Linked DNA regions of Homo sapiens: regions 1, 2 and 4 are each reported to be linked to region 3. The links are microRNA targets in miRTarBase. Many come from high-throughput screens and were not tested one by one. Region 3 holds a microRNA gene; each other region holds the end of a gene's coding sequence.

What was found. The annotated mature microRNA hsa-miR-587 reads UUUCCAUAGGUGAUGAGUCAC and lies in region 3 at 3,660-3,680, opposite strand. An mRNA with a match to its seed (bases 2 to 7 or 8) in the 3' UTR can be bound and repressed. Matches are read on the target gene's strand: a 7mer-m8 pairs with bases 2 to 8, a 7mer-A1 pairs with bases 2 to 7 and ends in A, and an 8mer does both.
Region 1: the mRNA of CSRNP3 is a reported target of hsa-miR-587. Seed matches in the 3' UTR shown: 7mer-m8 at 7,586-7,592.
Region 2: miRTarBase lists MYO5B as a target of hsa-miR-587. Seed matches in the 3' UTR shown: 7mer-m8 at 4,577-4,583 and 7mer-A1 at 4,048-4,054.
Region 4: miRTarBase lists GPR151 as a target of hsa-miR-587. Seed matches in the 3' UTR shown: 7mer-m8 at 3,694-3,700 and 8mer at 3,596-3,603.

What each region holds. Positions count from the first base shown.
Region 1 is chr2:165,677,186-165,685,150 of GRCh38, forward strand. It overlaps CSRNP3 (cysteine and serine rich nuclear protein 3), which reads left to right. Exons shown (of 7, transcript NM_001172173.2): 7 at 1,516-7,965. The coding sequence ends at 2,568. Among named protein-coding and RNA genes, the nearest start is that of GALNT3, 110 kb to the right of the region's middle.
Region 2 is chr18:49,821,681-49,829,131 of GRCh38, forward strand. MYO5B (myosin VB) reads right to left here. Exons shown (of 40, transcript NM_001080467.3): 40 at 1,109-4,943. The coding sequence ends at 4,791. The region is part of intron 1 of SNHG22 (small nucleolar RNA host gene 22); the gene reads left to right. Among named protein-coding and RNA genes, the nearest start is that of SNHG22, 11 kb to the left of the region's middle.
Region 3 is chr6:106,779,855-106,787,819 of GRCh38, reverse strand. It overlaps MIR587 (microRNA 587), which reads right to left and starts at 3,695; the gene lies at 3,600-3,695. LINC02532 (long intergenic non-protein coding RNA 2532) reads left to right here and starts at 279. Exons shown (of 7, transcript NR_033557.2): 1 at 279-561.
Region 4 is chr5:146,509,851-146,517,815 of GRCh38, forward strand. It overlaps GPR151 (G protein-coupled receptor 151), which reads right to left and starts at 6,340. Exons shown (of 1, transcript NM_194251.3): 1 at 3,294-6,340. The coding sequence starts at 6,263. The coding sequence ends at 5,004. It overlaps TCERG1 (transcription elongation regulator 1), which reads left to right. Exons shown (of 23, transcript NM_001382548.1): 23 at 591-2,111. The coding sequence ends at 792. RefSeq lists a silencer at 782-982.

The DNA.
Region 1 (7,965 bases), not on the chromosome of region 3:
GCCAAATCCGACCTTGCCACATGATTTTGTAAATAAAGTTTTATTGGATCACAGCCACATTTTTTTCTTTACATATTGCCTATGACTGCTTTCTTGCTCCTACAGCAGAATTGAGTATTGTGGTTGCCACAGAGCCCATATGGCCCACAAAGCATAAAATATTGACTCCTTTGACCTCTGCAAATAAAAAGTTTACCAACCCCTGATGACTGGCAATCAGATAATTTCCTGGTCCCCCTTCATTTATAATGTCATTGGTGCGCTATGATTAGTGTCACTATTTTATGCAGAAACTTGGCTTTTTCAATAAGGAAAGCAACTCAGGTAGTCAAAAGAAGAGGGCAGTGCCTATCTGCTGAACAGTTGCTTAAGATGGGTTCACAGAAAGATTCATGAGTAAAAAAAAAAAAAAAATACAGATACAAATTCTGGCTCTAATATCTGCTATACTTTTTACTGGGGCCAAGATGATTGTATTAGAATAGTCTGCCTTCTCTTCTTTAGCATAGGAAATTCCATGGCTGGATAAGGTGACAAGCAGAGCAAGTTTTTTTCTCTTGCCTATACTCTGGTCTGCATACAGATTAATCTGTGGAATCTGAGACAATTGGTAAATCTCTCATGAATACCCTTGGATTGTCCAGAACCCCACCTCTCACCTGAGTGAAGAGGTCAGTCCAACACTTGTTGAACCCAAACACTCTATCTTCGGTATCCAATCACCAAAATAGTTTTGGAATATTGATGAAACGTACATGCCCTTCCTTCAAGAAGATTGTATCTAATGGAATGGAGAGGGAAGGGGGGACTCAGGACCTAAACACATGAGTCCCCCAGTCATAGTCATGAATGTGCATATCCATTGCAGCGCTCCAGTACAGTACACACACATGCACCCATGTACCAAGCACCCCAAACAATAAGAAGGTAAGCAAATGAGAGCAAATTGTGAGGTTGCATGATGCTAAGTTGTGTAAGTCCATTTTATAATAAGCAAAGGGAAAAGCACCTTTATAATAAGCAAAAGCAAAAGGAAAAGTTAACATGGGGTACATCATATATGTTAGATTAATAGCATGTGGAGAGGAGTACAGTAAGTTTGCTTGTTTAAAATCAGGCACAAGAGCTGGGGTGCAGCAGAAAGAAAAGGAACTTGGGGGAAAGACAGGAGCATTCAAAACATGGGAGCAAAATTAAAGAAGTGGAGGGAAGGGAAAGTAGGGAATACAGAAAAAAGGGTAGAAAGCCATGGAGTGGGTCAGTGAACTGAAAATACACACTTATGCCCATAACCCATTTTTATTTTGAATATAGGTATAAAAAGCAGTTAACTCTTATGTTTTAAGCCCTCACTTTCCCCTTTTCATTTCTATTTGAAGTTTGGTTGTCATTTGCTCTGGCATATGTGGAATTAAGTGGATGGATTACTTAATTCAAAGAAGTTACTGAAAAGTTCTGGGCGTTTATTTGGTTTGTAATAGTTCCATGGTGCTAATCTGTGTTCTTCCTTCCAAGGTGGATCGTATGTCTTTCCCATGCGGCTGCACTAAAGAAGGATGTAGTAACACAGCAGGTAGAATTGAATTTAATCCTATCCGTGTTCGGACTCACTTTTTGCACACAATAATGAAACTTGAACTGGAGAAAAACCGAGAGCAGCAAATCCCCACGCTGAATGGCTGCCACAGTGAGATAAGTGCTCACAGTAGTTCTATGGGCCCTGTCGCTCACTCCGTAGAATATTCAATCGCAGACAGTTTTGAGATTGAAACTGAGCCCCAGGCTGCAGTGCTGCACCTGCAGTCGGCTGAAGAATTAGATTGCCAAGGAGAGGAGGAGGAAGAAGAGGAGGATGGGAGCAGCTTTTGCAGCGGAGTCACAGATTCTAGCACGCAAAGCTTGGCACCTAGTGAGTCAGACGAGGAGGAGGAGGAAGAAGAAGAGGAAGAGGAGGAGGAGGATGACGATGATGACAAAGGAGATGGCTTCGTGGAAGGTTTGGGCACCCATGCCGAAGTTGTCCCTCTTCCTTCAGTTCTTTGTTATTCTGATGGCACCGCCGTTCACGAAAGCCATGCAAAGAATGCTTCTTTTTATGCCAACTCTTCAACTCTGTATTACCAAATAGATAGCCACATTCCAGGAACTCCAAATCAGATCTCTGAGAACTATTCTGAAAGAGACACTGTCAAAAATGGTACCCTTTCGCTGGTGCCTTACACCATGACCCCGGAGCAATTCGTTGACTATGCCCGACAAGCAGAAGAGGCCTATGGTGCCTCCCACTACCCAGCTGCCAACCCCTCTGTAATCGTTTGCTGCTCCTCTTCCGAAAATGATAGCGGTGTGCCCTGCAATAGTTTATATCCTGAACACAGGTCCAATCACCCTCAAGTGGAATTTCACTCATACTTGAAAGGCCCCTCCCAAGAAGGGTTTGTCTCTGCATTGAATGGTGACAGTCACATTTCAGAGCATCCTGCTGAAAATTCTTTGAGCCTTGCAGAAAAGAGCATATTGCATGAAGAGTGCATCAAATCACCCGTGGTTGAGACAGTCCCTGTTTAGTAGCTTAAATTATTCTAGGACCAACTCTTCTCTTATTTAAGGCACTGTATTTAATTGGATTTCCTGGGCTCATCATTGTTTAAACTGAAGACCAAGAAAACTTGGACGGTGGTTAATCTTCCAGACTGTATTTTGTTTTTTCCTTTCTAGCCACATGACTGTGGCATTGCACAAATACAGTCTCTGTAGGGATTTTAAAAGATTTCAGACTGTTTTGATAGAAAAAGCTAAATTTTAAAATGCATATCTCACAGTTGCCTACCTGTCAAACTGTGTGAAACCTGCCAATCTGTGTAGATCAGAGCTCCAAATTTTGGATTATCGGGCCTGTGCAAGATTGTTAACTAAGGCTGGGAAATAATAAGATTTAGAGTCCTAATTTTCAATATATCTGAAGATAATGATGACTTTTTAATGTAAAAGTAATTATTGTAAGAAAAAGATTTAATTGTTCCATGTGTATTTTATTTATGGTAGTTTAGAAGACATGTTTTGATGAAAATGAACAGCCGCATGTTCATTCAAGCTGAAGATGCATAGCTAGTTCCACAGAGCATGCCCACATGGATTGCATCTGGAATCCATTCACATTTTTATGATCATGACTGATCAGATTTGCAAATTCTTAAGGGTGAAATAGGCCTATTTTTGCTATTTTGGACAAATAAATGATTCTATATGTGCAGGTCCTTACACAGTTTTCTCTAAAGTTAAGAGTTAGGACAATCCTCTGGGGAGAGTCTAGTTCACTGCCCTCCCTCAGCTGACTCCAGAGATGGAGGTAGAAGGAATTGCCTTTCTTTTTTAAACAGCATCATCTTGATTCTTAGCTTGGACAGCACCTTTAAGCTCTACCCCCTACATCAAAATGCACTTTAGTGCCCCTTCACGGTACCTCGTGTGGGGTGGGGACTGAGAACTCTTTGAGATGAAAAAATTTAAAAAAAAATTAAAAAGATCTTTAACTATTATAAGGTTCATATAATTAATATAGAGGAATCATCCAATGATACTTATGAAGGGAAAATGACCTATTTTCCTTCACCACTCTGAGGACCTAACTCAGTAAATGCAGAGGAGGCTGAGGAAACATGGAAGAGACACGACCTCAGCAACCAGCCTTTTCTCCAGCGTGATCAATCCATCTCTACAAAATCAGTGTATAATGAGATTTCCACTTAGTGACTAGCTGATTGAAGGGGGGCCTCTACCCAAATACTCAACTAGGCCTTTCTTTTCTGAAGCATTTTGATTTGTCTTGCCTGGGACAACTAGCAGAACAGTCCAGAATGCATTGCATACTTTCTAATTACCTCACATTCTCTTATTAAAGAGAACAGATAGAAATAAAACATGCACTCCCCACCTTTAGATTACCTGCACTTGGTTCGTCGGAGGACTTCTAGGATCCCGTTTCCCTGTAAATTAATTTAGGTAACTAAATAGTGTAATTCTGCCTTTTTTTTTCCAATGCAATATGACTATGCTAAACCTGTTTCATATTTTTGACCTTCTATTGTTATATCACTTCACATGTTTTATAACTATTTGAAATGCGGACATGACTTGCTATTCAGTGACTGCATCGCTACTTATTTTTTATGTCTTTTAGACTTGGGTGTTTAGAATTATGGATATAAATATATTGTAGATCTCAATTTCTAAAAAAAATATTTTATTTAATTGAACTTAAAAATGCTTGATCTAGAGAAAGTCCTCCAGTGGAAAAGTTTCTACTAAACTTTGTTTTGGGGAAAAAATGTTTACTTGGCAGCTCTTCCACTGTGCAGTTGGTTTCTGCCCCTTCTCTTCCCCCCTACATTGGGCCAAATTTATAACTCTTAATATTAACATTAAAAGAGCTTTGGGTTTGTCTTTATGTAGGTTGCAGTAATGAGAGCAGGGTTGTTCCTTTTGAATGATTGGCCCTTTGGGCTAATCAGAATGAGGATTTGTTGAAATCTCAAATATACATATATATATATATATATATATATATATATATATACACACACACACACACATACACATATATATACACATATATGTATGTGTGTGTGTGTGTGTGTGTGTGTGTATATATATATATCCCATGTTGTCTGCAAAGTGACAGTTTTTAGTGCTTAATCTCCAAAATTTTCCCCCTACTGATACAATCTAAAGAGCACAGGCCCAAAGAGAAAATGACAAGAGGCTATTGTTCCTTCATTCAAGCACATGAAAGGATCATGTGTACTGTATTTGCTGGACCATTACAAGCTCTTGAAGGATCTGCTTGTGAAGTACTCTGAGGTTATTCTTGGAACACAGAGTGTGGGAGAGTGGGGAAGAGCCAGCTCCAGCCTGAGCAAAGCTGAAGGGTAGAATGACAGTCCAGTTTCTGAAAAGAGATATTTTAATTTTAGTTCAGCTTTATTTTCCTAAGACGATATGAAGCCTACTTTTTTATTTTTGGCTAGGTCTTTGTTTTCTAGCTTTGTTTCCAAAAGGATGCTTAAGAAAACAGAGTTTTTTTCCCCTATCCATTTATCTAGGGTAGAAAGTCACTGCCCTGTGAGAAGAATTACCCTTCCAATCATGACAGCTTCTATTCCAACTTTTCATATACCTGACTAACCTGTAAACATATCCCACAAACCACATACACAGGCTACCTATTAAAACTCTCCCATATACCTAACACATACACATGCACACACATACAAAATATATACATATCACACACTTAGAGAATGACAGATTTCAGGCAATGGCCAATAGTCAGTATTGAGTTTTTCTAACCCCAGAATCTGGTTGGGCTTTATGATCTAAAAAAATGTGGTTTAGAAAAGAGGATAATTGGTAGAGCTGTAGTTTGAAAATATCAGGTCAAAGTTGCAAACATACTTATGATGGAATCATTTCATTTTTAGTTCCTTTCCCAGAAAAGCTGAGAGAGCACACTGTTCCAGCTGACTTTTTTTTCCATTAATAGCCGTTCTATTCAACAAAGAGCTGCCCACATGCCAGGAAAGTGCTACAGTCCTTCTAAGCTTTTAAAAATGGGGATCAAGCTACATGCAGCCAGTTGGAATACTTAAGATCTTTATGCCAAGACACAATAACCTGACCTGCAGCTGTTGTATTGCCTCCATAGTATATCTAGCCAAACTGTAGTCTTTGACACACAACTTTTTAGTCATTCACTATCAATTGCAAAGCTTCATGCTCCAGCCCTGGCTATTCTAGTACCAGTCCTATACCTTTAAATGGGACTTAATTCCCAGTTATAATCCTGGCCGAATTGATTTGAAAGTCAAGTGGCTGAAGCAGCTTGCATCTCCTTTGTCATTCCCAATTTCCTTTGGGAGAAGTCAATGAAAGAGATTTACTTAAGTTTTTCCTCCTTATCTCTTGATCATTAATTATTAAGACATGGGTAAAATTCATTTGTCTCATGTCTTTTGGTTGATTGAATAATATAGTTACTTTTTGAAAGCCCATCATTTCTTTGTGATAAAACCATTTTCTCAATGTGACAGCCACATGTAAAATGTGAAACTAATGTTTCTTAGTATGTTTAAAATCTTCACAATCATATATGGCCCTGCAATACTCCCTGAATTCCTTCCCTCCAAAAAAAAACTATGAGTTGCAAAAACACTAGTTACGAATTAATCAAGAAGCAAAGAGAGTATGTTAAGTGGCTATGTTCTTTAAAATTTTACATTCTAATAGATGACTTCTAGGCAAAATTTTGGTATGATTACCATTAAACAGGAAAACATACCATGATTTACTTTCTATAACTTGCTAATCACTGTTTCTTTTATTTCAATTTTTGATATTGTTGCACAAGTTTATGACTCTTTGGTCTTTATATTCAAAATTTATTAAGTATCAATTCTTTCTTTCAACAAATATGTACTGAACACATGCTGTGTTAGAACAACTGTCTTGGGTAGTAAAAAGAGGGGAACACTACAAATTATAATGGATAATATTAATGAAGGGTGGCATGAAATAATCAAGCTTTCTCAAATCCTCTTAATATGTGATTTTATCAAGTGACATTAGAAAAACTGACATCAGTTCTTGTCTAATTATATGTGAGCTGCAACTAAAAGATGCTTCCTTTACCTAAATTATAGAACTCACTGGATCGCCCTTCATCTCTCTCCCTCCATCTGAAATGTATGAATTAAATCAGGACTCAGCTAGGACTGAATCAAATGAAAAAGAAATTTTCGATTAATTGCTTCTTCAATGTTAGACCTATATAAGTGATGCTAAATTTACACCAGCAAACTCCTATCAGACAGTTTCAAGGAGGATTTGACTCATGCATAACCCAGGAAACATTTCAGGAAACTTTTAAGACAACAGTGTGGAACACAATCACTCTTACTTCTATTTATAAAAAGCCTATCAAAACAGCAAAATCCTGTTGCAAATTCCAAAGACATCACTTTGCAGCAGGTGGAAAACAGAGAGGTTGTTAGACTCCATCACTTTCAGCTGGAGTTACAAACCATCAAATTAGCAGGTGGAAAATTTATATTCTCAGAAGCCAACAGGAGACTGCCTTTTTAAAAGGTGTCATGAAGCCTTCTATTTCTCCAAACAACTCAATATTTCTCTTTAAAATGGCATCTCTGTTCCTTATTCTCTTGATGACAGTTTGCAGTGCCATTATAGCCAGTGTATTAAATACCAGGCTTTAATGGGAAGCACCTTTGTGCTTTCAAAGGCAAGACTTGTCTGTAATTTTAAATTAGAACTGTTGGTTGTATTCTTACCACAACCAAAACCCAAAGTTTAAAGGCTTGATTACTCTATATTAGGTCTAATATGAATTTTCACCTTCTGATTGCATTACTTTTTCTGAAATCTGCTAACTAGTGCTGGAATAACAAAAATGCCTAAGCCAAAATGCTGTAGCTCTGCACCAACAGCACAGCTCATCAGATGTTTTCTATAGTAGTAAAGAATTTGATTGACTTAATTGAATATCAGCAATTTTAATACCCACTAGAATTATGGAAGTATCAGAGTGGAAGTGAGGACGCAATAAAAGCTTAATAAGTGGTGGTGTCTTCTAGGAATTATGAAAAAAAAAGCTCAGCAGAGCTAAGCCAGATCTTATTACATCATAAAGACTAGAGTTACAAATGGCAGCCCCAAACCTAGAAGGGGCAGTTACAATGTGGACACCCTTTCAGCCCAGTTGGTGCTCACATCTGCTGACCAACATTCATATCAATTACATTTTTACAGTCTGTAAGTCATTTGATGCTTTAGAAAATAAAAACACACACCTACAGCATTCTAAAGAAACTATTTTGTTAAAAAATTTAAACACATTTTATATTAAAATAAGTGATCAATGACTTTCATGATTGTCAAAAGTAAAAAGTG
Region 2 (7,451 bases), not on the chromosome of region 3:
GGTGTCTTATTCCATAAATTTGGGTGTAAATTTTTTTAAAGATTTCCAGGTGATTTTGATGTGTACTCCCAGTTAAGAAAAAATGTATCAGTATTTCCATATAGATGCTCAGTTTCTGGGCTATTCTGTTCCACTGGTCAATTTTTCCACATCCAGGGCCGGGCGCGGTGGCTCACGCCTATAATCCCAGCACTTTGGGAGGCCGAGGCGGGTGGATTACCTGAGGTCGGGAGTTTGAGACCAGCCTGACAGACATGGAGAAACCTTGTCTCTACTAAAAATACAAAATTAGCTGGGCATGGTGGCACATACCTATAATCCCAGCTACTAGGGAGGCTGAGGCAGGAGAATTGCTTGAACCTGGGAGGCGGAGGTTGCGGTGAGCTGAGATTGTGCCATTGCACTCCAGCCTGGGCAACAAAAGCGAAACTCTGTTTCAAAAAAAAAAAAAAAATTTCCATGTCTGTCATCCTCACACATCTTAATTACTGAAATTTTGTAAGTCTCAATGCCTGCTAAGGAAAGCTTCCCACTTTCTCAAGGAGGGTCTTCCTTATTCATGGGCCTTTGCTCTTCCATATAAATCTTATAATGAGCTTGTCAGTTTTCACATAGAAACAGTTGAAATTTTGATTTTTAATCTATAGATCAACTTGGGGACAACTGACAAACTTTTAGTGGTATGGAGTCTTCGAATTCTTGTACCTAATTATTTCTCCATTTTAATGTTGTCATTGTTTTTCACTTATATTTTACAAATTCCTCCATACAGATCTTATGACTATTTCCCCACTGATTTTTCATGCCATCTCTACCGTATGCTATGTTATACATAGGATTGGGCCTATCCTTGCACTCCCTATTCTGTTTCGTTGATCTACTTGTCTTTGCCTACACCAAAACTGCCTTTAATTCCATAGCTTTAAAGTAATTGCTCAATAAGCCTTGTTATCTGAGAGTTTCTCCCTGCCCCCAACTTTTGGACTGTAAGATGCTGACCTCTGGTTTAAATGATCTTGACACGTATTAGAATATAGGCCCCATAATGAAGCTTCTCAAGAGAGCATTACAAAGAAACTTTGTCAACCTGTAGCTGCAGAGTTTTAAATTTCATTTAGATTTGGCACACCTCTTTATTCAAAAGTATTTATTTCCACAAATTTTTATCCACAGCTAAATATTACAGTGACTATTACAAGCATTTTTCTATAAACAAAGGTGTAGTTTACAGATTTGTGCAAAGTGGGAAAATATTTTCATCAGTAGTCTTTCTTCCATGGTGTTGGATTCACCCCTGAATATGATCTGAACTCTTTCAGAGAGGCAGTCCTTCATCTAAATGTCAGTTGGTGGCAAAATGTTATATTCAAATCTGGATTATTCTGATACAGTGTCACTTTAGAAAGTAGCTTAGTTTCATTTCTGATTGATCCCCTTTGTTAGAATTAGAAATTTTTTGAAAAACAATCTTTTGTATCTAATGACCTTTATAATAAAAAAAACCCTGTCCTGTGTTTCTCATTGGCATTAACCTCTGTCTACACCCTCTAATTCTCTAATTATGGCACCAGTGGGTATAAAAAGTGAATTATGGTTATTTGGCTCATGCAGCAAATTAATTGGAGAAACTGACCACAAATATTCTGTGAAGAACTACAAGGTCTTGCCCCATGCTGTCCCATTTTAGTGACCATTTAGTTATGCAGGCATTATACAAATGCCTCAATTTAGGACACCCTTGCTGTCTTAGTAGGTCAAGTGTATGAAAATTTACTTTATGCAGAAGAAATGAATTCTAATTTATTGGTTACTGGAATCTTAATGTATGAAAGCTCTAAGTAAATATTTGATGAATTGATGGTAGCAGTGTTGATTTTTAACTGTTCCAAGCTCCTAGTTTTGTTTTGTTTTTACAAAAGCCTTAAAATTTAGTACTAGGGAAATCAAAGGAAGCAACTCCCACTGACATGCTTCATGGAAAGGGGAAAAACATCTACCTTTGGGTCTAATCTGCCTCCCAGGTGAGCCTACAGGTACTGGAACTCTAACTGCAACTATGAGGGCACAGGGAAAATGCATGTATGTAATATGCTTGTCAGCTTCAGCAACAACTCATGTGTACATTCACATTTACTATAAGTAAACAGGTCCCGTATAATACTTAAAACACAAGTTTTGATCTATAAATATTTGATTCTTAATATTTAAAATGCTTCTAATGTTTTAAAAGACAAAACTCCCCCATGATATCACCTTGAACATTAAAATTATTCCCACAGCAACACTTATTTCAGAGAAACAACTGATGTCAGTTATCTTAGTAACCGCTAAAGGCACCTGGTGAAAAAAATGTCAACTAAATTTTAAATATTAAAAAATTAAAGAGACATCTAATGCAGAGTTCAAACCTGAATTGTTAAAGAGTCATTACTGATTTCATGACACTGATAAATGTTTGAATTGAAATGATTTTTTAAAATGCAGAGAAAATGCTAACAAAAGATTATATAGTTCCCCTAAAGATGCTTCTTCTAGCCTCCAAGTATTAAATAAGACAGATCTAAATATTAACTACATATAAAGTATATATTTGTTAGTCATCTGTAAGTTTTAAGTACAATTCCAGGATATACCTTTATCTTTTGGAAGAGAAGAACTAAATCTGCCATTTCTTAGGCTAAATGGACTATTCATAAGGTCCTTCCCTCCCCATTTATTCTAATTGCCAAGCTTTTATTCAGTAAGCTCTTGGCACCTAGTGATTAACCAGTGACAGCAGAGAGTAGTGACCAAGAGAGATGGAGAGAATGATGGTATAAGACAGTGTATAAGGATAGTAAGCCACTGTGTTTGTGGAACCACTGCATGTCAAAACTCCTTAACACTCTAACAAGGCATTTTTGGTCTTTTAAGGATGGTCCTTACATAAGAGACTCACTTTCAAACTAAAGTGCATTAAAAAACAAATTATCCTTCACAAACAACTTTAAAGAGGTAGCCACAAACCCAGTTGTTTTAGATTGGCCTTCTAAATGAAGTCAGCACATGGATCCATGGGTAAGTGTCATGGACGTCAGTGATTATGTAACTGTAACTGAAAGAAAAAGGCACAGCTCTGCCGATGCCCAAGAGAAGCCGGCATGTTTAATGTGGATGTAGAGGGGATAATGCCCATGACAACTGATTGGAACACAATGTCAGCAGCCTTAACCCAGGCTAAGACTGGCCTAAGCCCCAGGAGATGCAGAGAACAACTGAGGAAGCTGTGCTCTAAGGGCACAGTGCAGAAGGTAGCGTGGAGTGTGCTGTGTTTCCAAGAGCCTTTTAAGTTGGGTGGTTGAGTAAAAGAGGGTGAAGGCAGGCTGTTCTACTTCCAATTCATGGATAAATCTTATTTTCTCAATGTAATACAGAGGCTGTTCTTCCATGATTTGCAAATACCATTTTTTTCTTATGGGAACAGCATACTGCTATCAAGAAATACAGAAAAGACAGTAAAAAAAAGTGTGGAAAGAATATGGGTTTCCAATTGAATGCTTGCTTTTGAAGAAACCAAAAACAAGTTAAAAAAAATTCTAAGAGCAGCAAACATCTAAGCCTGTTATATTACTGAATTACTTTTTTAAAATCCTTATTTTGTGGGAGAGATATTTACAATTTTTTGTGTGCTAAATTTGAAAAACGTTGAAAATAACCTGAAAAGGGAAAGTTGACCTAAGCCATTTTATTCTCTTAAAAAAAAAAAACCCAAACTTTTGTATAATATCCCTGAACTGATTATTTTTGAAGGTTTTTCAGATGATCTGATGTGCGAACTTTAGTTTGTTTTACTATTTGGTTTCTGGAACAGTAGAGCATTATGTGATGCTCTTACTGGAAGCTTAATGGTATTAAGAGATTAAAAGCTTTCATATTGACTTGTTTGGTTTTTACATCTATAAATAAAACAAGTTTGTTATCCGTTTCTAATATTTAGCTTATATACATTTTTGTGAAAGTTTTGTGGGACTTGGAAAGTGTATGGACTAGCATCAGAAACAAAATATTTTTCCATCTTTCTCACTTGGAGTTTGGGATAGCAGCATTTTAATAATCTCTTCCATTAAATCAAGATAACACAAAAGCGTTTGAGCACACTGAGGACTGGCACTTCTAATTTTGCTTCAGAAACCAGTACTCAAAATGTCTGGTCTGGAGGTCAGTTACACCACTGTCTGTGTATAATCAGCCATTAAAAAATATTTTGGGAATATTTCTCAGAAGTCTCATCCCCATATTTTTGTTCTTAAAACATCTCACCACAAACTCAACCACACCTATGGTTTGCAAACTTTGGGAAATGTCAGTATATGCCATTATCATGGTTATTAGTACCATTATTTGTTAAAGCCCTTTGAAGGCAATTTATGTGACTTATATATATTTGGTATTTTAATTTGGACATTCTCTAGTTCTATGCAAAGATCAAAACTAGGCAGCTTCGTTTTATAGAATTGACACCTTTTATATGTCTATGGGGACTGCTTGGTGTCTATAAATTATGTATATGTGTTGGACTGAAATCAAACTTAAAATCTTCCATATTTCAAGTGTTTTTATTCTGAGCAGTAGGTACAAAAAATAATGACATAGTTGTGTCTAATTCTGTATAGTTCAGCACCCTCCACAGGCTGTCAATCTCTGATTTGATCTACTTTTACCAGATTTAACAGATCCTTGAATTTACTTTACTGTATATACTTCCTTCTTGCTCACATTGGGAATCAAACTAATGCTGGAAACATGCATCTTCAGACTTCATTGAGGAATTCCAGATTGAGACACGCTGGGATGTGGATTGAGTCCATGGTTAGAGAAGATGGATTAAATGGAAACAAAACAGGAAACATGTGCTTGGCATCTAATAGCAGTTGCTGAGGGTCATTCCGCTCTTGTAGTTGTGCCTATGGGGAAGAATAAGACCATGTAAAGTTTGAGTACCCCTAAAAATAGCCAGTTTAAGTGAATTCACAAAAGTGAGTTGGCATATATCATGGAAAGATTTCTACGACAATTAGGTAGAACTTCAGGACTAGGAGAATGTGATCTCCTCACCCTTGAGGTATTTAGTGGGGAGAGAAGCCCTGACTTAGGCTTCTTGGAGATCAGAGGGCTGTAAGCACTCTCCCAATTCTAGCATTCTTTAAAAAATTGTCTAAGGGAGAATATAAAATACATCTCAGGTGCAAACCATATGGAGAGGCACTATAGTGAAGTGGCCAAGGGCATGGGTTTTTTTTTTTAGGTAGACAGCTGAGCTCTAATCCTGGCACCACCCTGGGCAAATTCCTGAATTTTTTATGCCTCAGTTTCTTTACCTGTAGAATGGGAGAAGAGTACATCACATAAAATGGCAGAGTAGGAAGCCCTAGGGATTGGTCCCTCCACTGAAGCTACCTTGAAGTAGAAACAGTGATTGTCAACTATCTCATAACTCTGGAACTTGATTGGACATTTATAACAATCGGGAGACTGATTGGTAAAGGGAGAGGCTGCTGATCTTTGCTAAGGGAACTGTGTGTGTGACCCAGCTACTATCCCCCTCTCTTCAGCTCCCCTGAAGCTATGGGGATAGCAGCTCACATTCCTGGAGTAGCTAGCTGGCCAGGGTAGGCAGTGGGACCTTGTCCTCCAAAAATTTGGGGTTGTGCCCTTTGATCTGGTGGGTCCCAGCAGATGCCTGTCTTGGTTTAGACATTCCTTGGGATGCAATGGCTTCCACTAGTGGCATCAACTGGAAAATTTAAAGGCACAGAGCCCCTCCCTGCTTCCTATTTGAAGCCAGAAATTTTAGGAAAAGTACAAAAACTGAAATGAAAAATTCACTAGAGAAGTTTAACCGCAGACTTGAGCAGGCAGAAGAAAATCAGTGAATTTGAAGATAAAGCAATTGAAATGATCCAGTCTGAGAAGAAAATAAAAATAATGAGGTAAAAATGAACAGAGCCTAACAGACCTATTGGACACCATCAAGTATACCAACATACACATTACAGGAGTACCAGAAGGAAAAGAGCAAGAAGGGGGCAACAAAATATTTGAAGAAATAATGCCAGAAACTTCCCAAATCTGATGAAAGACATGTATGTAATCATCCAAAAAGTTCAATGAACTCCAAGCAGGATAAAGGCAAAGAGATTCACAGTGAAACACATTATACTAAATTGTCAAAACCCTAAGACAAAGAGGGAGTCTTGAAGGCAGTGAGAAAGAAGTGACTTGTCACATACAGTCATCCCTCAGTATCCATGGGGGATTGGTTCCAGGAATTCCCACAGATACCCAGATCCATGGATATGCAAGTACTGCTGTCGGCCCTGTAGAACCTATAGATAGAAAAAGTTGTCCCTCCATAACTACAGGTTCTGCATCCTGTGAATACTGAATTTTGAATCTGTGGTTGGCTGAATCTGCAGATATGGAACCTGTGGATATGGAGGGCTGACTGTATAAGGTATCCTCAAATAAGATTAACAGCTGTTTTTCATCAGAAACCATGGAGGCTAGGAGGCAGTGGGATGACACAGCTCAAATCCTGAAAGGAAAAAATCTTGTCTGCTAAGAATTCTAAATCTGGCAAAACTACCCTTCAAGAATGAAGGAGAAATTAAGTCATTTCCAGAGACAAAGAAGGACATTATATTTTAATAAAAGGTTCAACTCATCAAGAAGATATAATAAACATCTGCATCTAGCAACAGAACCCCAAAATATTTGAAGGGAGAATTGACAGACTTTAAGGGAGGATAGTTCTACAGTAATGGTTGGACATTTCAATACCCCATTTTTAATCATGGATAGAACCAGATAGAAGATCAATAAGAAAATAGAGGCCATGAACAACACTATAAACCAATTAGTCCTAACAAACACATATGGAACACCCCACTTAGCAGCATACACATTCTTCTCAATGCATATGGAACAGTCTCCAATATTCAAACAAGTCTGAATAAATTTAAAAATATTAAAGCCATATGAAATATTTTTTCTGATTAGGATGGAATGAAACTATAAATCAATAAATGAAAGCTGCAAAATCCACAAATATATGGAAAATAATAAGTTCTCAAATAGCCAATGGGCTAAAGAAATCACAGGGGGAATTAGGCAATAAAAATATAATAAACCAAAGCTTATGGGATGGGATAAACATAGTGCTAAAAAGTTTGTAGCTGTAAATGTCTACATTAAAAAAAAAAATCTCAAATCAATAACCTAACTGTATACCTTAAGGAATCAGAAAAAGAGCAAACTAAACCTAAACCTAGAAGAAATGAAATAACATAAATTAGATGGAAAAAATAGAGAACAGATCAATACCCAAAACAAATGAAATCAAAGTTGGTTCAAAAAATTGACAATTTTTTTTTTTTTTTTAAGATGGGGTCTTGCTCTGTCACCCAGGCTGG
Region 3 (7,965 bases):
CTAAAGGAACCTGGAAAAACACATGAATCAAAATAAAAGTTGATTCACCTTTCCAGGGCAGAGTTACAAGCGTCAAAACTCTCAGGCGAGATCTGCCAGTGACGTTCTGACCGCATGCCTCTCTGCAAGGAAAGTGGTATGTGTTGTTTTTTCCAGCAGTGGAAATACAAATGATTAACTCTGGAAACCATGGCTGTTTCACTGATAACTAATTTGTTTGCTGATAAATGATTACCCAGGAGCCAGAATAGAGACCCAAAAGTCAAACTGCAAAAATTATTAAGTTCCCTCTGTATGCAGAATATTGTGCAACATGGTTATGGGTACTACAGTGGATGTGAGTGTGTAGACCTTGTACAATAGAGCTTATAGGCTAATGAGAAGACAGGAAGAAACAACAGGAACACATATAGCTGGAATGCAGATGGGATCTGTGCTACTTACGCTAGCCATGGGATGATTAGAACAAGATAAGAGACATGAGGAAGACTTCTTCAAGGAGGTGCTCAAGCCATGTTTTGGAAAAGAGAACTCAAGGTCTGGCAGGGAGAAAGGAGCAAGGTAACCAGGGGAAGTCTTGGAGGAGAGCAAGATGATGCTGAAACTGCCCTCACTGTTGGTTTTAATGTTGTTCTTGTCTTACTGGTCGATTCAGAGCATTCACGGTGCAAGAGAGATAGGGACATTTGATTTAAGAAATAGAGCAGAATCTCCTCAAATTAAATCAGAATTTTTGATGGAGTAGAGGTCAGAGCTATGTTTTGGAAGTGTTTGGGAAATTGTTAGTTTTGTTCCCAGGATCTGATGCTTTTGTGGTTGAATATTCCATGTGAATGTTTTCTCTGCCCATGCAAATAGTAGGTCTCCCAGACAAATATCTCAGTGGTGCCAGCACTTCATTTTCCAAATGTAGGAGGATCTTTCTAATACTTCCTTTGTGGGGAACATGAAACTGTTGGAGGCTTGTAATCATATCTATATTTTAAAGAAAGATTTTTTTTATCAACAGGCTATATGGAAATATATTCAAAACTGTTAGTATTATGGTTGGATATTAATTTTGAAGTATTATATAGTTTTTTTCCTCCTGTATTTCTTTCTTAACCCTCTCACCTACTTCTCTTCTTGTTTTTATTATTTATTTATTTATTTATTTTGAGGCAGAGTCTCACTCTGTTGCCCAGGCTGGAGTGCAGTGGCATGGTCTCCACTCACTGCAACCTCCATCTCCCAGGTTCAAGTGATTCTCTTGCCTCAGCCTCCCAAGTATTTGGGGTTACAGGCATGTGCCACCACACCCAGCTAATGTTTGTATTTTTAGTAGAGACAGGGTTTTGCCATGTTCTCCAGGCTGGTCTCGAATCCCTGACCTCAGGTGATCCCCCCGCCTCGGCCTCCCAAAGTACTTCTTGCTTTTTTGAGCAAGGTTACTCTGTCCTCATTGTCTTAGTGAAGGGATAGTCAACAGGGGACAGAGATATAGAAGCCCATTTTCCTGGCTTTTGAGTTTTTAAAGCCCTTGTGTGTAAAGGAAGGACTCTGACTTATACAAGAGATTTAGGAGAATATGTGGTGCTCCACTTGAAGCTCCCTGTCTCCAGTATCTGGGGACTTGGTGTGGGGGAGGTGGGTCACAGAGAAAGTAAGAACTGTATATTCATTAGGGAATTCTTGAATGTGGTATTGTGTGTCCTGGGTGAATGGGAATGGAACCCACTGATTAGCTTGTCGACATTTCTGTAGACTAAGATTTGTACCTGCAACTGTCTAGTGCTAAATGGTAAATATTTTTCTTCCAGTTGATTTGCCTGGGGTTCTCATTAACTTTCTAGAAGATTTTGGATAGAACTCTTGGATATTTAATGTCACAAATTTTAGTTTTGATCTTGCCTCTTGGGCTCAATGTTGCATTCCTGTAACTCTCCAAATTACCGAAAAACAATTATTGGAATAACCCAAGTTTACATGAAAAGTAAACACAGCAAAGAGCTGGAAAAACAGCATGTGATGGGTCATGGCCAGATTTGCCCATGGAAAGCCCCTAAGTGGATGTAAGTAGAAAATTCTTAGGTCCTGTAACATAAGTGCAGATAAAGGGAAGTTGCTTAATATGGAGCACCAGCACAGAAAAGAAGAATGATTTTACGTAAACATTGTGCAGTAAGTCTCTTAGAACCCCAAACCTGGGGCATAGGCCTAGGGGATGTGGTTTATTGGGTTAAAGAAGGATTGTCTGAAACGGTGATATACATCATCCTAGGGGCTGGCATGCCCTTTCTGGAGGGGAGAGGAGCCTTTGTTCTGGGCTTCTGGAGTCTTGTAGATTCCTCATCCTGAGAGCTGCTGCCCACAGCCACCACCCCACGTAGGTGTATCCAGTTTAGAAACAAAAGGGGGACTCTGGCAGGCTGGCTGCTATGCTGTATTTGTGGTCATTATTACTATTATTATTATTATTATTATTTTTTTTTTTTTGAGATGGAGTTTCGCTTTTGTTGGCCCAGGCTAGAGTGCAATGGTGCGATCTCAGTTCATCGCAACCGCTGCCTCCTGGGTTCAAGCAATTCATCTGCCTCAGCCTCCTGAGTACCTGGGATTACAGGCATGCGCCACCACGCCCCGCCAATTTTGTATTTTTAGTAGAGACGAGGTTTCTCCATGTTGGTCAGGCTGGTCTCGAACTCCCAATCTCAAGTGATCTGCCCACCTCAGCCTCCCAAAGTGCTGGGATTATAGGCATGAGCCACTGCACCCGGCCTTGTGGTCATTATTTTTAAATACTGTAGTATAAGTAATGGAATATGTGTGTAAACCAATTAATCCTAATCTGCTTTTACTCTTTAGGGTTGATTAATTAATGGATAACACAAAAAAGTGAACTCTAGTCTGTGTCAACAACTGAGTTTCCTTTATTTGCACACAAAAGTGTTAAAAGTAATTGTTGATTTGGCAAACCAGCAGATTTTTTTTTGTTTGGTTAGGAGTAATCTAATGGGACTAATTGTCTTGTGTGAATAAGGGATAAAAATGATCAAGCCCAATAATTATGCCATCTGTGTAGGGCTGGGAGTCTAGAGCCCACTGGTGTGACATCTCCAAGGATAAGACCACTCTCCCCTTGCCCCCCACCATCTAACCATAGGAAACCAGTCTTTGCGTTTGCTTCAAAAACTTGTCTCCAACATTTGCAGGCTGGGGCAAGAGTGCAAATGGAGACCCACATAGCATATGTTTAAACATCTAAAAGCTATAAATCCAGCTAAGAAACCATAATATAGAACATACTCTATCCTCTTGCCTTGAAAAATATATATTCAGAGGGACCTAGAATATCAAGTTTGGATATAGAATTCTTCAACTCAGAGTTCCATCTGCTTGTCCCAGTGTCTCCGTTCTCTGTCTGCTCCCAGCTCCATCCCTCATCCCATATTAAAGACACCCCAGTCTGCATAGCCCATTCTTTATAAATGGCTGCCTGGTGGCCTAGGGATGAGGACAGCCATGAGACAGATGATCCTCAGGACTCAGACCCCCTGAAGAGGCCTGAAGTGAGTTCAGGGCCCTTGGGATCCTGGGCACCAAAGAGTGGTTTAGGTGGGATATGGGATGGGCTTTCCACTGGTGATGAGTCACAGGTGCAGACACATTCCCTGAGCCCTGTGACTCATCACCTATGGAAAGAGGGTGCATAGGAGGGGCAGAAAGAGACCTTTTAAAGGACAGCAACTCTCTCTTGCCTGGGTATTTCTGCTGTTTTTTTTGGGGGGAGCCGGAGGTTGCAAGGAGAGAGATAGAGAGAGAGAGAGAGAGAGACCTCTCCTCTTAGCAAGGTTTTAAAAGATTAATATAATCTGGTATCTAACAAAGATCCCTGCATTTGATGAAATGTGGTCTGAGCTGAGACTTGCATTTATTGCAACAGCTCCACTTGGTAGCAAGCTAATCAGGGTGGGGACCTACAGTCTCTACTTGTGTCCAACCACAGGAGGTGACTGATATTTTTTATGGTGAGATCATGGCTTACTGATGCAGAATCAAGCATGCCCCAAGAGTTCTGTTTGCATCTGTTCACCTCCTCACTGGACCTGACACATGCTGAATGATTAGTTGGGTGTAGTAAGAGCGTCTGTTTCTCCTTGCACATTTGAAAATGAAGTTCTCAAGTAGGTAGTGTAAAGTCATGAATCTAATTCATAGTTCCTCTCTCTCAGTCTACCATGCACCCTTCAGCAAGCACTCTCTTCCCACTGGTCTTTGAGCCTCATTCAGCCCCAGCTGGTGAGTTGAGGAAATAAGCCTAGGTGAATGTGAGCTCTGATAATCCAAGGGCTTTCAGAAAACCACAACAAGCCAGGAAAACTACCAAGTTTTCCATGGAGGCAGCAGGGAAAGGGAGGAGGAGGGTCTGAGTGTCTGCCAGATTCTAGACTCAACTTTGCTGAGGATTTACCCGTGAATTTGTACAAATCTCTTCCGTCTTTCTTTCTCAGTTTCATCTGTCTAAAATGATGAGTGTGAATTAAATGGCCTAAAGTCCCTCCTAGTGCCAAAACTCTTGGGTTATTTGGCTCTCATTGGCTACAGTGCCTTCTAATGTAAGCAAATGTAAAATTCCCTCTTCCCTCTTCAGCGCAAATGGACTTCATTCTCAAGGCACAATGGGGAGCCTGTATCCTGGAGGGCCCTAAGAAAGGAGCCAAGTCCATTGGCTGTGAGTCGACAGGGACAGGAGTCCTTCTACCAATCTCTGTGTGGCTGGCCCAGACCGCCTGCTCAGCCAGGCAGTGCTCCTGTAAAAGCAGAATAATTTTCATTCCCCTCACATTAGTTTAAGCGAGGATTCACTTTTGTGTCTGCATGTCAGTTGATACTCAGCGGATCGCGTGGTTTATAGCTGGACTGATATCGTTTAAATCTGGAACTCTTTTCCTCTGGCCTCAATAACCCAAGCGACTTGTATGCTTTTCCTCAGCTCCCTCCCTTTTCAGGAAAAGTGATAAAGAGGTCAAAGAGAACACAGTGAGAGGGGGAAGTTGCTGGAGCAAGCTTTCCCCAGCTGTAATGTTCTCTCAGACGTCAAGGTTGTACCCTGTTCTTAGAGGTTGTTCCAGATCTTAGATAGTCACTATGCCCAGAGGTAAATACAGCTGGGGCAGCAGCCAGAGGGAATGATCCTCCAGCTGCCCGCTGCTGTCCTTAAGTGTGGCTGTCATGAGACGCACAAGTTTGCAGGGAAGACTGAGTGCCTAGATTGCGGGAAGAAAGATAAAATTCCTCAGCCTTGTTTACGTCCTAAATTGGTAGTCTGACTTGGTGAGCTATAGATTATAAGGAGGTTGCTTTGCAGACTGTGAGGAGTCACCGAGCAGCTATTCAATGGCAGAGGTGAGCCTGGCATCGTGGTGGCCCCTTCTCATCCAGGGGCTCGCCCACCTTCCTCTCTTCCTCATGTCCACTTTGGTTCTCCTGCCTGATGCTCTTTCCCTCCCTCGGCCGCCTAGGTCAGCTCAGGCCCCACAAGTGTTTCTCATCATGACACCTCTCTTCCCTGGAACCCACCCCTACGTTCCTGCTTCCTGCCTGTGAGTATGTTAGGGTGCTGTCAGCAGGACTGTGGGGTGGAGATGCCTGACGCCTCTCACCTGAAGATAAGAGGTGAGCAGGCAAAGTGCCTGAGTCTGTCTGTTCTGCTATAGCAAAATACCTGAGACTATATTGGGGTAAATTTTTTTTTTTTTTTTTTTACTTTTGGATAAAATGTTTGTGTAATATCAAGAAAAAATGGCCCTGCAGTGATTTGTCTTTGGGGGAGGAGGGGGAACTTGCAGGGGAGAAAGATTGTGGTTCAGAAGAAAATTATAGTGTTAGATTAACCTTGGATTCCTGGGTAGCCAGGTGTTCAGCCATGGTATGGAGCTGCCCACAATGCCCCTCCTCAGCATGAAGCAGCCAAAAAGATTGATGACCAGATTCCTCATGATGGAGAACTGAATTAATCTGTTTTCTCGCTGCTGATAAAGACATACCTGAGACTGAGAAATTTACAAAAGAAAGAGGTTTAAGAGACTTACAGTTCCACATGACTGGGAGGCTTCACAATCATGGCAGAAGGCAAGGAGGAGCAAGTCATGTCTTACATGGATGGCAGCAGGCAAAGAGAGAGTTTGTGCAAGGGAACTCCTCTTTATAAAACCATCATATCTCATGAGGCTTATTCACTATCATGAGAACAGCACGGGAAAGACTTGCCCCCATGATTCAGTTACCTTCCACTGGGTCCCTTCCACAACATGTGGGAATTCAAGATGAGATTTGGGTGGGTACACAGCCAAACCATATCATTCTGCACCTGGCCCCTCCCAAATCTCATGTCCTCACATTTCAAAACCAATCATGTCTTTCCAGCAGTCCCCCAGAGTCTTAACTCAGTTCAACATTAACTGAAAAGTCCACAGTCCAAAGTCTTATCCAAGACAAGGCAAGTCTCTTCCACTTATGAGCCTGTAAAATCAAAAGCAAGTTAGTTACTTCCTAGACACAATAGGGTAAAGGCATTGGGTAAATAAAGCCATTCCAAATGGGAGAAATTGGCCACAACAAAGGGGCTACAGGCCCCATACAAGTCTGAAATCCAGCGGGGCAGTTAAAGCTTAAAGTTTCAAAATGATCTCCTTTGACTCCACATCTCACATCCAGGGCATGCTGATGCAAGTGGTGGGTTCCCATGGTCTTGGGCAGCTCCACCCCTGGGGCTTTGCAGGGTACAGCCTCCCTCCTGGCTGCCTTCATGGCTGGCATTGGGTGTCTGCAGCTTTTCCAAGCACACGATGCAAACTGTCAGTGCAGCTACCATTCTGGGGTCTGGAGGATGGTGGCCCTCTTCTCACAGCTCCACTAGGCAGTGCCCCAGTAGGGACTCTGTGTGGGGACTCTGACCCCACATTTCCCTTCTATACTGCCCTAGCAGAGGTTCTCCATGAGGGCCCCACCTCTGCAGCAAACTACTGCCTGGGAACCCAGACATTTCCATACATTTCCTGAAATCTAGGCAGAAGTTCCCAAACCTCTGTTCTTGACTTCTGTGCACTTGCAGACTCAATACCACATGGAAGTTGCCAAGGCTTGGGGCTTGCACCCTCTGAAGCCATGGCCCGAGCTGTACATTGGCCCCTTTTAGTCATGGCTGGAGCAGCTGGGACACAGGCACCAAGTCCCTAGAATGCACACAGCAGAAGGACCCTGGGCCCAGACCATGAAACCATTTTTTCCTCATAAACCTCCAGGCCTGTGATGGGAGGGGCTGCTGCAAAGGTCTCTAACATGCCCTGGAGACATTTTTCCCATTGCCTTGGGGATTAACATTCGGCTCCTTGTTACTTATGCAAATTTCTGCAGCTGGCTTGAATTTCTTCTCACAAAATGGAATTATCTTTTCTATCGCATTGTTAGGCTGCAAATTTTCCAAACTTTTATGCTGTGCTTCCCTTATAAAACTAAATGCCTTTAATGCTACCCAAGTCACCTCTTGAAAGCTTTGCTGCTTAGAAATTTCTTCCACCAGGTGCCCTAAATCATCTCTCTCAAGTTTAAAGTTCCACAAATCTCTAGGGCAGGGGCAAGATGCCACCAGTCTCTTTGCTAAAACATAGCAAGAGTCACCTTTGCTCCAATTCCCAACAAGTTCCTTATCTCCATCTGAGACCACCTCAGCCTGGATTTCCTGTCCATATCATCAGCATTTTGGAAAAAGCCATTCAACAAGTCTCTAGGGAGTTTCAGACTTTCCTATATTTTCCTGTCTTCTTCTCCATACTGTGCCGACCTCTGTCAAAGTTGCTTCCATATTTTTCCAAAGTTGCTTCTATATTTTTGGGTATCTTTTCAACAGATCCCCACTCTATTGGTACCAATTTACTGTATTAGTCTGTTCTCACACTGCAGATAAAACATACCTGAGACTGAGCA
Region 4 (7,965 bases), not on the chromosome of region 3:
AAACCATTTTTGTTTCATGCTCCAGCTTTTCTTCTTTAAGAGAGAAATTTGAAACATCTTAATAAAGGGTATGTGCACGGGAGGCTAGATAGTGCTGAGGGTGTGGTTTTTAGATATTTTGTCATTTGGATTTTTTGGTCAGGATCCTTAATGTTTTGCATCAGCTTGGGCTTTTAAATTAGATGTGAAGTAAGACTTCTTTCTACATTTTTATAGTTAATTTAGTGAAAGATGTGAAAGTGAAAGCTTGTGAAAGATGCTGGGATTGGCAGCCCCGCAGACTGAAGTCCTCTGTTCATCCACAGAACAGGTACAGCACGGGCAAGATTTACCCACCCACCCTCAGCCCTGATCTGGAGGGACCACCACTAGGGGTGGGAGGGTAATTCAGCTTCTGAGGCCCTTTCACTCCTTGGAGTCTTTGCTGAGGCGACTTACAAAGGTGACCACTGCCGTGAAATTTTTCTTAAAAAAAAAAAAAAAAAAAAAAATGGAAACACAATTAGGAACTAGATGGACATTTCCAGCTCATTTCTGAAAGACCTGTGAACAGCAGTCAGTAATTCTTGGACTTCTTTTTCTTATTTCAGATCCAAAAAATTAATCCAAGAATCAGATCAGCACCTGAAAGATGTAGAAAAAATTTTACAGAATGACAAACGGTATCTAGTACTGGACTGTGTGCCAGAGGAGAGGCGTAAACTGATTGTGGCATATGTTGATGACCTGGATCGCCGGGGTCCACCCCCACCTCCCACAGCATCGGAGCCCACGAGACGATCAACAAAATAATTCTAAATACTCTTCCATAGGGGCATCTATTCAAAATGCTTGCATGAGCCAATTTTCAGGTTTTTACATATATGTGCATTAGTCAACCTATTGCGAAACCATCTGACAAACAGAAGGAGAAGCATTTGTGAACAGTTTCTGAACAGAACACTTTGGAAATATTTATGCTTTTCTTTGTGTGGCATGACTGACATACATACTCAAATATAGGCTGTCTCTAGTAAATCTTAAAATCTTGAAGCTAAAATTCATCCTTTTATGAGGTGTGGAAGTCAGTGACTTGGTGACGTTCTTCCTAGCAGTGTTAATACATGCAAGAAGTAAGAGCATTTGTGGCTTGAACTTGCCAGATGCAAATACCACAGACTCCAAGAAAACCCGAGTTGGGGTTTGTTTTGTTTTGATTTTTTTTTTTTAAAGCGGGTAAAAGAGAAAACACTGAAAATTGAATTCTTATCTTCCAGAGGCTACAATTATTATAATGGACAATACTTTTACCTTTGTCTCTAAAGATCAGATTAGTTTTATTTGTTCACTTACGTGCTTTGATTATCCCCTCTGAATTATAGACCGAGTCTTGTTGTTTAGCCTAAGAGAAGATTTATGTAGTAATTTCTTCTCAGGTATGGAACCACGGTCATAACTAACATGTTGGCCAGAATAGAACCACTGGTTAAACATATTTTATTCACCATTAAGTGATCTTTATCAATATTCTGGATTAGACAACAAATTACCTTTCTGGGTGTTTCTTGTAAACTATACTCCTGTTTGAATGTTAAACTTTGTTGCTAAAGTTTAATTTTAAGATGTTTGAATGTTCAGTTTATGTATTTGAACTACAATAAACCAACCCTTTTTATATATCTGTATTGTATATGATTATTGTTACTTAATTTTTAAGAGCTTATTTTAACCTGTTTTTAAAAGCAGCAAATAGAATTTCCCACAAAGTAAGTTGACTCTAAATCTTAAGTATTACCTAGTTTTTAAAGGTTTGAATATAATAATGCAGTATTTGCAGTATAAAAAGGAAGGAATTTGTAGAGAATCATTTTGGTGCTCAAGTCTCTTAGCAGTGCCTTATTGCCTCATAGCAAGAAGATGCTGGGGTTTTTTTTGTTTTTGTCCTTTGTATTAATGTATGATGGTTTGCGCCTTTTTGGCATTCTTTCAACATGTCGTGTACATCACACCATGAATCAGTTCCTAATTGATATATCTAGCTTTACCTCCCGAGTTAAAAAAAAATCTTTTTATTTTATGCCTTCATAGGTTGCTCGTTTCAGAGTGCCACATAAATAAAATGTTTAACAAAATATATATGTTAATAGAATAATTTATTTTCCATTATCTCATACCGACTATGATTGTAACAAATCCTAGAAAGAAGGAATACCAACAGATCTGTATTTGTATGTTGTGTGCATACAGTCACAGACACACACATTCACATCCATGTTATATAGTTCATAGCTTAAATCTATTAAGTGCCATGGAAATTTTGTGAACTCTTTATGTAGGAACCTGGCATTGATCAGACTAAGGTCTTCAGCTGTAAAGTTGATAAACAGGATATGTTTTTTCTTTTTATGCGTACAAAGGATCTTACTCTGTCTCCTAGGCTGGGGTGCAGTGGTGCCATCATAGCTCACTGTAACTTTGAACTCCTGGTTTCAGTGATCCTTCTGAGTAGCTGAGACTGCAGGCATGCATTACCATGTCTGGCTTTTTTTTTTTTCTTTTTAAAATTTTTTTGGAAATGGTTTCACTCTGTTGCCCAGGCTGGCCTCAAACTCCTAGCCTCAAGCCATTCTCCCACCTCGGCCACCCAAAGTGCTAGGATTACAGGCGTCAACCGCCACACCTGGCCGCCTTCTGTTTCCTTTTTTTTCTTTCTTTGAAGTTCATTTTATAAGTTCATTGAGTGATTTTTAAGTACTGTGAGGAATGAAATTGAAGTGCTTGCCAAAAGGAGCACAACTATTATGTAGTATGTAGAAATACGACTGTCTCACAAGGGTAAAGTTTCCAGAATGCCTTATTTTGTTATTCTGAATTCCACATAATATTGTTTGCCCACTTACTACGTTGTTTCTCACAGTAGAGAAGTGAGAAGAAAACAGTTTGGTGATATCTGTTCTAATTTCCTACTTTTGTCTTAAAGTATCTGGGTTTGATCAGATAAGATACAAATCAAACTTCTCTAAGCAGATTTTTTAAGGGATCAAGTCGGGACTTAACTTTGTGTATCAGGTTCTTAATGAAAGGTTCATTGTAATTACTCTTTGTTCCAGTGTCTGCATCTTGATTTGGTGCTTGTTAGCAAACTCTGAAAATCAGTTCACCTTGAGACCTGTTCCAGTGTTAAGGTCAAACAGCCCCATAAAGCTCCATTGTTCCTAATAATGATTTTGGAATGATAATTCAAGACAAAGACAGCTTTAAATCTCCAAAAACTATCGGAAGTAAAGCGTAATTATTTTTATTTCTTTACAAGTTTAAAGTGTCAAACCCTGGAAGCTTACATCCTAAATTTACTACATATAATGAACATAAAAATTATTTATTCAAATAATCACAGACAATGATAATCCTTTTTATAACTACCATATCACAAGACAATATTTTGGATTCTTGGGTTAAATTTTACTTTATTTGAATACATGAGCTTCAAATAAAATTTGTAATGAAGGATGTAAAAAGAATACAGCCCTACCTCCTGTGTTAAAAAGCAAACTATGACCACTTATGAAAAAGCAAAGAATCCGGAAACCCATAGACAAAAAGCAAAATCTTTTTTTTTCCATAACATATCCTTTATATTTCAGATTCTCCATGGCTTGGTTTGCCCTAAAGGCATTTCTATTCTGAGGGAAACTTTCAGTGAAAATACCCGAGTTCCATAACAAAGTAATCAAGAATCATGGGTGAATGTCATTATACTTAAAAGGGGCAGAAATATATCATAATCATGTTTTATTGGGTATGTTTTACCTTGCTATAAAATGAATGGTTATTGCCTGTTACTCAGATTTTACCGTATGTCTGGGTACACAGTTTTACTGCTTTCTGCATTGCCCTTATGCTTTTTATTTTGTATTCTTAACCAAATTCTGTCTTGGTTTGTTGAATTTTCTCTTTTTGATATTAATCTCTTTCTCAGGTTGCTAGATTATTTTTATAACTTAGCCTATAGTATTTTAAAAGTTGAGTAGGGTTCAAGTTCAATGTTCTGAGTAAGGGTAAGTTTAGTACCATTAACAAGAAAGATCACCATCTCCATCTTCTATTTGTATTTGAGGAGTAATCTATACCTATATCATTAACCATGGTTTATCTTGGGAGAAAGGAGATATTAGGAGGAACACATTTCTGCTTATAGAAAAATAACTTTCCCACATTTTGGAAGTGAAGAGAGGACATTTTTTTAAGTATTTTTTCCCCCATATCAGACTACTGAATGTCATTGGAAAGCTGCTACAATTCTTAGACTTAGAAACTGAAGACTCATTCAGGTAGCTTTAAAAAGTTCACTGAAGCAGGCTTTAGTTTAAGTTTGAATTTATTTAAACTTGGCCAGAACCAGCCATGGCTTGAAATGAGTCCAGAATTGGAATAAGGTGCTGTTTCTTTTTCTTTGACCTTCAGTCATGAACATTATGATACGGACTTTTCATCAAGTAAATTAACACTTATTAAGTAAATGAAGAACGCATTAAAATTTATCATTAATGTGTTAAAAATCTCAAGTGAAAGTAGATTTTGAGCTTTGGTTATGTGAAATACAATTTAGTAGGTAAAATTAGGACTAGCAGGTCCTGGGTGAAACTGAAGGTAAAGGGGCTCAGCTTTGACAGAACCTCTACTGCAGGCTCCAGCCGGTCCACTACAGGGCTGGTCCTAGGGGGTACCCAGTAAAACCACTGTGAACAAATGACAGAATAGCCAGGCTGTCTAATCACTTTGACAGCAACATCTTTACACAACACTTAAATTGTTTGGGAAGCCAAGTTCTAATTCTGAAACAATTATTACTTCTAACATGGTTCTCTACTTACCACATTGCACATTTGGAAAGTGTAGATTGTGAAATATTTTTATAATTCCTAATGGTAATAATTATATCAGTTTGTAAAGTCAGCAATATTGATAAGCAGCAGTACAAGTAAATACAATAATCACAGTTTGTTTTGCTTTGAAACTTAAATCTATTTAACACCTTCCCCTGTCTCTTGATCTTCATGTTCCCAGGGGATAGGGTCATTGTCCTGTACAGAAGGGACTGTGTCCCTCTCATGCCAAAACTGCTCTACGTCAGGAAGGATGGGAATCTCTGCCTTCTCAGTTTTCCCTTTGCCAGAGGAGGGAGAGCTGGGTTTCTCTTTTTCTGGTATGGATGCTGGGGATTCTGGAGATGGAACCTTGTCAGGAAGACCCTCTGAGTTGCCAGCTGGTGTTTCCTGAGACTCTGAGACAGTTGGAGGTTTTTTGGTTATCATCCATTTCCATACACCTTTCAAGCCTTCCCTGAACTCTTCCGACATCACAAGAAAAATGAGAGGATTTGCTGAAGAGATGGAAAACATCAAGACTTGAGACAGGGCTATGAAACCTTGTGGTGGGGCCGGGCCTGCAGCCTTCAGATGCCATACCCACAGCCAAGCTACCCATTCGGGGAGCCACAAGAGAGCAGAGATGATGGCAATGCTCAGCAGCATCACTGTGACTTGCTTTGAGCGTATCTGGTTTCTAAGATTTTGAGTCTTAGTTCCTCGTTTTTTACATTGGTCATAAGCTCTCCAGAAATAAAAGCTGGCAAAAAATAATGGAAGGCCAAATGCCAGGAGTGGGTAGAGCTTACCAAACATCGACATAAACTCTTCAGCCACAGCTGGTACATCCACGAGGCACATTTCCACACCTTCATGATGCCTGATGGTGCTAAAGAACCATTCCGGCAGGGGTAACAGGCTAGCCACAGTCCAGATGGCCACCAGCACTGACCAGATGGTGTAGTTGTGGATACTCACTTGCTTGGCTGGGTCACTTGCATACATGAAGCATACTTTGGCCACCACAACGATTGTCAGGCTCTTGGCTGCCATGCATGTGTGGATAAACCAGTCAGAGGACTTGCAGACAAACCAGCCTAGATCCCAAACACTTTTGGAGTACGCCGTAGCTCGGATAGGTGCAGAAAACAGCAGGAGGGAGAGATCAGCCAGGCTGAGATTCAGAATCAGGGAGTGGATCATGGATGGCTTTCCTTTCCAAGCATTGTGAAGGAGGATGCCAATCACACACAGGTTTCCCACGAAGCCCACCAGGCAGACAGCCACCAAGAGAGCCGGGATGATGGTTCTCCAGTCCTGGGAATCAGAGGGCAGGTACCCTCCGGCAAAGTGGAGGTGAGCAAAGGACACATTCATGCTGCTGGAGTTAGAGTCTGCAAAGGCAGCTGCCAGCATCACTCTTCACAGCTTCTTACAGAAGTTAGATTCTTATTTAGGTTTGTCTTTCTGCCTGGGCTCTTTTGCATAGGAAATAAGTACTCTGTCGTCAGTGTCAAATGACACTTCTGGATCCTCCCCTTGCTTATTTCCTGAGAGCAGAATGTGGAAGGAGGCTGGCTGTTAAGCTCTTCTCTGCTGCATACAATATACTTGTGACTGTACCGACTGTCAGATAGCAGGAGCACATGGCTGCTGCTCATTAGCAAGTCTAATACCAAATCGTCAGCCCTGTGGAGTAATACAAATATACCCATAAATGATGAATGAAGAGAACATACATGTAAGTGGCATGTGTTCCTTGGGGGGTCACTAGAGCCAGTCAAGGCAATTATTTTCAACCAGCTCTTCCTAAAATCTTGACTGCTGTCTGTAATTTAGTGAACACTACATCTGAACCAAGTTCTTTGAACTTCACCTGATGGCCGGATCCAGTGGGTCTGGAGTAGGGCCCAAGAAATCATTTCTAACAAGTTCCCATGAGACTCTGATGCTGCAGGTTGGGAGACCACACTTTGAGAACCACTGTTTTAAACTGAGAACTAAAGCTTCCCCTACCCACTCTGCAGAGATGAGCTTCCTCTTCTTTTCCCCAACCCTTACAACCACCTCAGTTCCATCAACAGCTGGCTGAGTTCAAACACAGCTGGATAATGAAAACAAGTTAGAAGTCCTATTAAAAAAATCTAATTATGGATGACTCTCAGTTTATTCTATTACGAGTTTTTAGAAGCAATTTTACAGCTCCAAATTAGAACTGCTTTACATACTAATAAGACTTTTCAACAAGTGATGGTGATGAAGGCAACTGCATGATGAATTAAGCTGCTTTTCAGAGAGCATTCCTAGAGGATTTACCAAGACAAGAGAAATGAAAGAAAAATCAATATCTATGTGGAAGGCATTTAAGAGATTTTTTTAAATTATATTTTAAAGTTGGTAAAGATTTTGTGCTGGGCACACTGGCTCATGCCTGTAATCCCAGAATTTGGGGAGGTGGAGGCGGGAGGATTGCTTAAGGCCAGAAGTTCGAGACCAGCCTGGGCAACAAAGTGAGACCCCTGCCCCCACCTCTACCAAACAAACAAGAAAAAAAAAAAAAAGAAAAAAAAAAAAGTCAGCCATGATGGTGTACACCTGTAGTCCTAGCTACTTAAGAGACTGAGGTGAGAGGGTTGCTTAAGCCCAGGAGTTCGAGGTTGCAGTGAGCTATGACTGTGCTGCTGCACTCCAACCTGAGTGACAGAGTGATCCTCTGTCTCTAGAAATAAAAAAATTCTCAGATAAGATGATTTGGTAGAACTAGCCCTGAAATTTTAAAATAAGCAATGGATACTCTGGGGGGATTAGAGGAGCTCAAAATGTTCAGAGAATGGGGTTTGTGGGGTTGATATGAAGATACATGCTACATTGAGTGTGGCTAGTCAGAAAAGCTAAAGCATGATATACAGGAGAGTATGCTGCTGCATTCAGATCTCTGGATTCTGGTACTGTGCTTTCACGTTTTTCGCAAGTAAAGAAGGGTCTGACGTTTTAAAATTCTTCAGTGTCCTAGAAAATAAATAAGTAGTGATCAGTATAGCTATTGGGACAGTGGTCAGTGGTGCTGGGTTCCTTTGTTTCCATTTCTATTTCCTTTTGCTTTCCTTCCTTTTACCTC